Regions from separate parts of the Homo sapiens genome. Here region 1 is linked to region 2. Evidence: fine-mapped expression QTL. A gene starts in region 2. The other region holds a variant in brackets. All regions are shown on one strand. Distances are between the middles of the regions. Region 1 overlaps LTBP2 (latent transforming growth factor beta binding protein 2). Region 2 holds the start of LTBP2 (latent transforming growth factor beta binding protein 2).

Evidence for each region. PIP is the estimated chance that this variant, and not a neighbour inherited with it, causes the effect.
Region 1: its variant is the best candidate, but not a certain one, in a credible set for the expression of LTBP2 in whole blood (TOPMed, PIP 0.71).

The regions. Positions count from the first base shown.
Region 1 is chr14:74,496,899-74,499,802 of GRCh38, forward strand. LTBP2 (latent transforming growth factor beta binding protein 2) reads right to left here. Exons shown (of 36, transcript NM_000428.3): 36 at 1,285-2,904. ISCA2 (iron-sulfur cluster assembly 2) reads left to right here. Exons shown (of 4, transcript NM_194279.4): 4 at 1-208. Among named protein-coding and RNA genes, the nearest start is that of ISCA2, 4.6 kb to the left of the region's middle. The variant T/C (reference allele first, on the strand shown) is at 1,302.
Region 2 is chr14:74,610,728-74,613,574 of GRCh38, forward strand. It overlaps LTBP2 (latent transforming growth factor beta binding protein 2), which reads right to left and starts at 1,510. Exons shown (of 36, transcript NM_000428.3): 1 at 724-1,510. The coding sequence starts at 1,217. It overlaps LOC101928352 (a long non-coding RNA gene), which reads left to right and starts at 2,458. Exons shown (of 2, transcript XR_944029.4): 1 at 2,458-2,568; 2 at 2,840-2,847. RefSeq lists an enhancer at 1,566-2,193 and a silencer at 1,821-2,140.

The sequences.
Region 1 (2,904 bases), 110 kb before region 2:
TGAGGTCAGGAGTTTGAGACCAGCCTGGGCAACATGGTGAAACCCCATCTCTACTAAAAATACAAAAATTAACTGCGTGGTGGACACCTGTAATCCCAGCTACTCGGGAGACTGAGGCAAGAGAATCACTTGAACCCAGGAGGTGGAGATTGCAGTGAGCCAAGATTGCACCACTGGACTCCAGCCTGGGTGGCAGAGTGAGACTCTGTCTCAAAAAAAAAAAAAAAAAAAAAAAAGGCGGATTTGGGAAAATCATGTTACTTCACACTGAGAAAGCTTCATTGGGAAACCAGAAGTGGCAGCAGGAAGTCTCCATTGGTGGAGACTTTATGTTGTTTTTCAAAGAGAAGGTCTCTTGGTCAATGCCCAGATCTTATTGTGGTACCATACTTGAGTTATGTGATGAGAGTGACCAAGGGTATGTAAATTATGTGTCCCATCCACTCTTAGTTTCTTTCTTTTTATTTGAGGCAGGGTCTCAATCTGTCTCCTAGGCTGGAGTGCAGAGGTGCAGCCTCTACCTCCCAGGCTCAAACAATCTTCCCACCTCAGCCCCTGCAAGTAGCTAGGACTACAGGTGCACACCACCAAGCCCAGCTACTTTTTGTATTTTTTGTAGAGATGGGGTTTCACCATGTTGCACAGGAGTCTCGAACTCCTGGGCTCAAGCAATCCTCCTGCCTCAGCCTCCCAAAGTGCCGGTATTACAGGCACGAGCCACCATGCCTGGCCCACCCATAGTTTCTTCGTATGGGAATGTTGAGTGATTACAAGGGATAGGAGGAAAGAAGTTGAGAAGTAAAAGATTAGGAAGGACTACTAAAGTAGGTGTTCAGGAAGAGACTCTTCTTTCTGTAACTTCTGAGAATCGAGCTCTGTTGTTTTGTCGTTTGTTATAAAGCATTAGAGTGCAGGGGTGGCATTTGGCAGGATCAACCTGGTATAGGGAAGTGGGCAGCACTGATCGTGGTGGTACAGCTCTCCCTTGAAATCTGGACCCAAGCTAATGTTGTGCAGCTGGCTTTGGGCAGGGCCTAACACTGTTCACTGCATGTTTTGTCTGAAAGGAAGGAATCTCTTCTATTTTTCTTCCTATCTAGCATTGATGTTTATGATCGTTCTTTTAAAATCCGTATTTTCCACTCTTCATAAAAATGCCACAGGGCTGCCTGACAAATTTGCATTAAGGAATTTTGACATAATTAGCACCTGGCTTTAGTTGTAAATTATAGTCAGATAAATATATAAAGAGAAGGAGCATTTAAGCAATCTTTGGCCAGCAACTGTATTTAAAAATATTT[T/C]ATTTTTTTTGAATAGGTGATACATATGGTACAAAATTCAAAAAAATACAAAAGGAGATACAGTGAAAAGTCTCCCAATCCTGTACCTATCCACCCTGTCACCCTCCCCACAAACCACCATTGGTTCTAAGAATTTATCCTGCAGATGTAATCCCATAAATTAATGTGAAATATGCACAAGAATATTCATTACAGCATTATTTATAGCAAAAGACAGGAAACAATGGAAACGTCTGTCAGTGAGGGACTGATTAAATAAATTATGGTTTATCCATTCAATGGAATAGTATACAGCTGTAAAATGAAATGAGGCAGCTCTAATTGCAAGTATAAAAAAAAAGCAAAGTGCAGAACAGCATGCATAGTATGCTATTTGTATTTTAAACAAAGGAAATATGTATATATGCATACAATATCTCAAGGTTGGCAGGAAGGTGGAGATTGGAGTGTTGTGGGGGCAGTGGGAACAGCAGTTACGAAGGTGTAGTGCCAGCAGGATATATTTGGGGGATGGTAAGTTCTCCGATGGTGAGGTATAAGGCGGAGTGGCAAGGATGAGGTGAACAGACAACCGCTTCTCTTTCCCCATTCTTTAGACAAATAGTGTTATGTTACATGCTGTTATGCAACCCTCCCTTTTCCCCTTAATTTGTTTTGGATATCTTTCTTAAGGAATTTAGAGCCACCTTTTTTAAGGGTTCCATAGCAATTAATTGTTTCTAATCTTTAGCTATTACAAATGATGCAGTAATAACTTCTTACGTATGTCATTTTATATCTGGTGAAAATATATCTGAAGGTTAAGTTCCTAGAAGTGGAAACTACTGGATCAAAGAGTTAGTGCTTTTATAATTTTGAAGGACATTGCCATATTGTCCTCTTCAATATGTACTTCTGTCAGCTGTTATGAGAGTACCTATTTCCCACATGCTTGCCAGCTAGGAGTCTTAACAAGCTTTTTGATCTTTGCCAATCTGACAGTTTTAAAAAGGATCTCAGTATGGTTTTAAGTTGCATTTCTTTTATTATGAGTGAAAGAATATTTTTACATGCGTAAGAGTGACTTATTTTTGTCTGCTGAAAACATCTCAATTAGTATAGGGACCTAGAGCAAATTATTTAAGCTTTCTATGTCTCAGTTTCCTCACCTGTAAATTGAGAATAAACAATAGTAAGTAGGATTATTGGATAATTAAATGAAATGTATGTATGGCACTCAGCACAGTGCCTGGCACATGGCAAGCATTCAATAAGTTATGTGATGGCTAACAATCAGAGGAGCAGGTAGGACAGGGCAGATTAAATTAAGAAAGTAGCATTCACTTCCATGCTCCAGTCACATGGAGCCTTGTTCATTTACATTGCCATTCATCAGAGAAGTACGAAGTCAGAGCTTTCCTTGTCTTTTAATAGTAAAGAGTCATTTCCCATTGGAACCCATCATAGGCTATCAGCAGAGCTGGCCAGGGAGTAGGCACAGCCTCATCTCTAATATTTAGACTTAGCCAACATGGTAAAGAAATTTAATCTGATATGAAATAAAAACAACAGAAGAGACCAGATGCACATTTCTTTATTCCACCATGGTTCTGAACTCCCAGCT
Region 2 (2,847 bases):
AAAGTAAATTGCAGGGTTGTGCGGTGGCTTAGCCCTGCAACGCGCCCAAGTCACGCTTACACCTAGATGCACAAGAGCACACTGATCCAATTCTCCACGCGCCCACTGTGTCGCAGCCTCATCAGGACACGCTTCCCGCCCAAAGTACCCAGAGCTCACGCCCACGCCCGCATCCAGCCCTCAGCGTGCGCAGGCCGACCCACGCCCCACGACACTTGTCCCGACGCACCAGCTTCGCTGCCGGCTCCCCTCCTGGAGACGCATCTACCTTCTCTCCATGGGGCCCCCGACACCTCCGCCAACCCGCGCTCTGAGCCAGCTCAACCTCCCCTGGGCGTCAAGAGCCTGGAGCGCCCACCCTCCTGCCCTCTCCCCGCTGCCTCTCAGATCCCGGCAGCGCTGCAAGAGTCTACAAGAGCTCGTTAGTTGCAGGCAGGAGGAACGCGGGCGAGTGGAGAGGCGCCTTGCGAAAGGATTTAACGTCGGGGCTCCGGGAGAGTTGGTAAGAAAGGATGAGGATGATGATCTATCTGCCTTCAACTCTTCGAAAGCGGATCAAATCTTCCAATCCCGATTTTGGAACCTCGGGGCTGTTTCCCGAAGTACTAAAGACAGAGGGACGAGGGTATGAGAGCGGCGCCCTCTCCTCTCGCCTGCACGCCCCTCCACAAATGAGCCCTGGCTCCCCTCTGTACCCTCCAAACTTCCCTCTCCCATGCTCACCCCGTGAGCCGCCCTCGCGGCGGGGTTGGGGGCGCAGCCCCAGACCGCTGTGGGGTCCCCAGGCGTGGGAGAGCCGGCGCGGCCCGGGTCCGGGGTGCTGGTTGCTGCTGGCCCAGGGGAGTGCTTCTCCGGGTCTGCGCAGGTGGCTGGACACGCCGCGACTGCTGCGCGCGGGACGGCCTCCTGGCCTCCGCCTCGGTGGGCCTCCTGGGGCTCCCCCAGCCCGGCTGGGCCCGCTCCACGGGCTGCAAGCCCGCGACAGGCGCGTCCTGCTCCCGGAACAGACTGTACACCTTGGCTGCAGCCGCTGCCGGGTAGCTGCCCCCAGGGCGCCGCAGTCGATTCGCGTCTCCACCAGCCGGCTCGTATCTCCCTACGGGGTCCCTTTGGGCATGACCCGCGCCCACGAAGAGAGCCAGGGTGAGCGGCAGGAAGCCTCTCCAGGGGTTCCGCAGGGCGCGCCCCGGGCTGCGGGCTTTGGTCCGCGGCCTCATGGCGCGGGGCGGCTGGAGAGTGGTGCGCGCGGGCACCGCGAAGAGCTTTGTGGTCGGCACGCTGGACGCCCGCGGGCTGTTCTCCCGGCCCCGCCCGGCGGCCAGCTTCTCTGAGTCTAGGGGGCCCTGAAGCGGCCGACTGGGGGCCCGGCTCTCGGCGGAACGAGGGCTGCGCGCCCCGAGCCTCGAGTCCGCGCTCCTACTCCAGCTGGGCTCGCACGGCTGCTGCACCTTCGCGCCTCCTCCCTGTGCCTGCAGCCGTCTGAAGGGGACCCGGACGGTTTTATTTTTGGAAACCTCCCCCGGCTTTTTCGTCTCTTTTATCCACACCAGGCCCCCTCCTCGGAGGGACAGCTCAGCCCCCTCATTACCGGAGAGGGAGCGAGGAATTCCAGCAACACCCACTTTGGCACCGGGAAGCCAGCGGGCGGCGAGCGGGCGGCGAGGGGGATTAACCCGTGCGGAGCAGGGGGCGGCGCGGGGCTGACCCAGGCGCTGGTCGGGCAGATGGCGCCTGCCACGACCGGGACACTGGGCCGCCTTTCTCCTGCTCTGGGCAAGTTCGAACTGCAGACCTGCCCCGAATCGTTCTCCCGCCCCTCGCCTCAGGGACCGTCTTTGGATCGGGGGACCCAGGCTGCAGCCTTGCAGGTCTGAAGGAAGCCGGGAGGGGCGCCGAGGCCCGCGTAGGGGAACAGGGCCGCCGCCCCCTCCGCTTGCGCCCTGGCCGCTGGGGGCGCCCTCCGCAGGGCCGGCCGGAGCGGGGGTGGCGCGGGGCGGGGCGCGGCGCGCGGAGCGCAGGGAGGTCCCGGGCGCGCCCCCTGGCGGAGCTGGCGGCCCTGGCGCTCCGTGGCTGCAATGCCCTGGCGCCGCCGCCTTCGCTCTGGATCTCAATCCCCTTCCACTGGCGTGAGGGTCACGCCTGAGCCTGGCGCGGTGATGGCTGCCGGTAGAAGAGGGGTCCTCTTTTTCTTTTTCTTTTTCTTTTCTTTCTTTCTTTCTTTCTTTTTTTTGAGACGGAGTTTCGCTCTTGTTGCCCAGGCTGGAGTGCAATGGTGCGATCTCAGCTCCCCGCAACCTCCGCCTCCCGGGTTCAAGCGATTCCCCTGCCTCAGCCTCCCTAGTAGCTGGGATTACAGGCATGCGCCACCAAGTCTGACTAATTTTGTATATTATTTTATTTTTTAGTACAGACGGGGTTTCTCCATGTTGGTCAGGCTGGTCTCGAACTCCCAACCTCAGGTGATCCGCCCGCCTCGGCCTCCCAAAGTGCTGGGATTAAAGGCGTGAGCCACCACGCCCGGCCAAGGGGTCCTCTTTTTCACCGAGGCAAAGACACGGAGCCTCTTGAGTAAGTCACTCAAGGAGATAGCGCATGTGAAAGAGGGGAGTGGAATCTAGGCCTCCCGCCTCTGGCTGAATCCATTCCCGGGATCCCACCCAGCCCTTCACTCTCTCGGGAATTTCCCAGAGGGGGATTCGGTGACCCCGATTGACCCAGTGTGTGCATTCACATCTTGTGTTAGCAGGGAGGCGGGCAGGGGTGTGGGAATGCTGACTGCCGCTGTCTGCGTGTCCCCAGTAATCAGCACACCATTCTCACCCATGCTCCCTCCCTACAGCCTAAAGG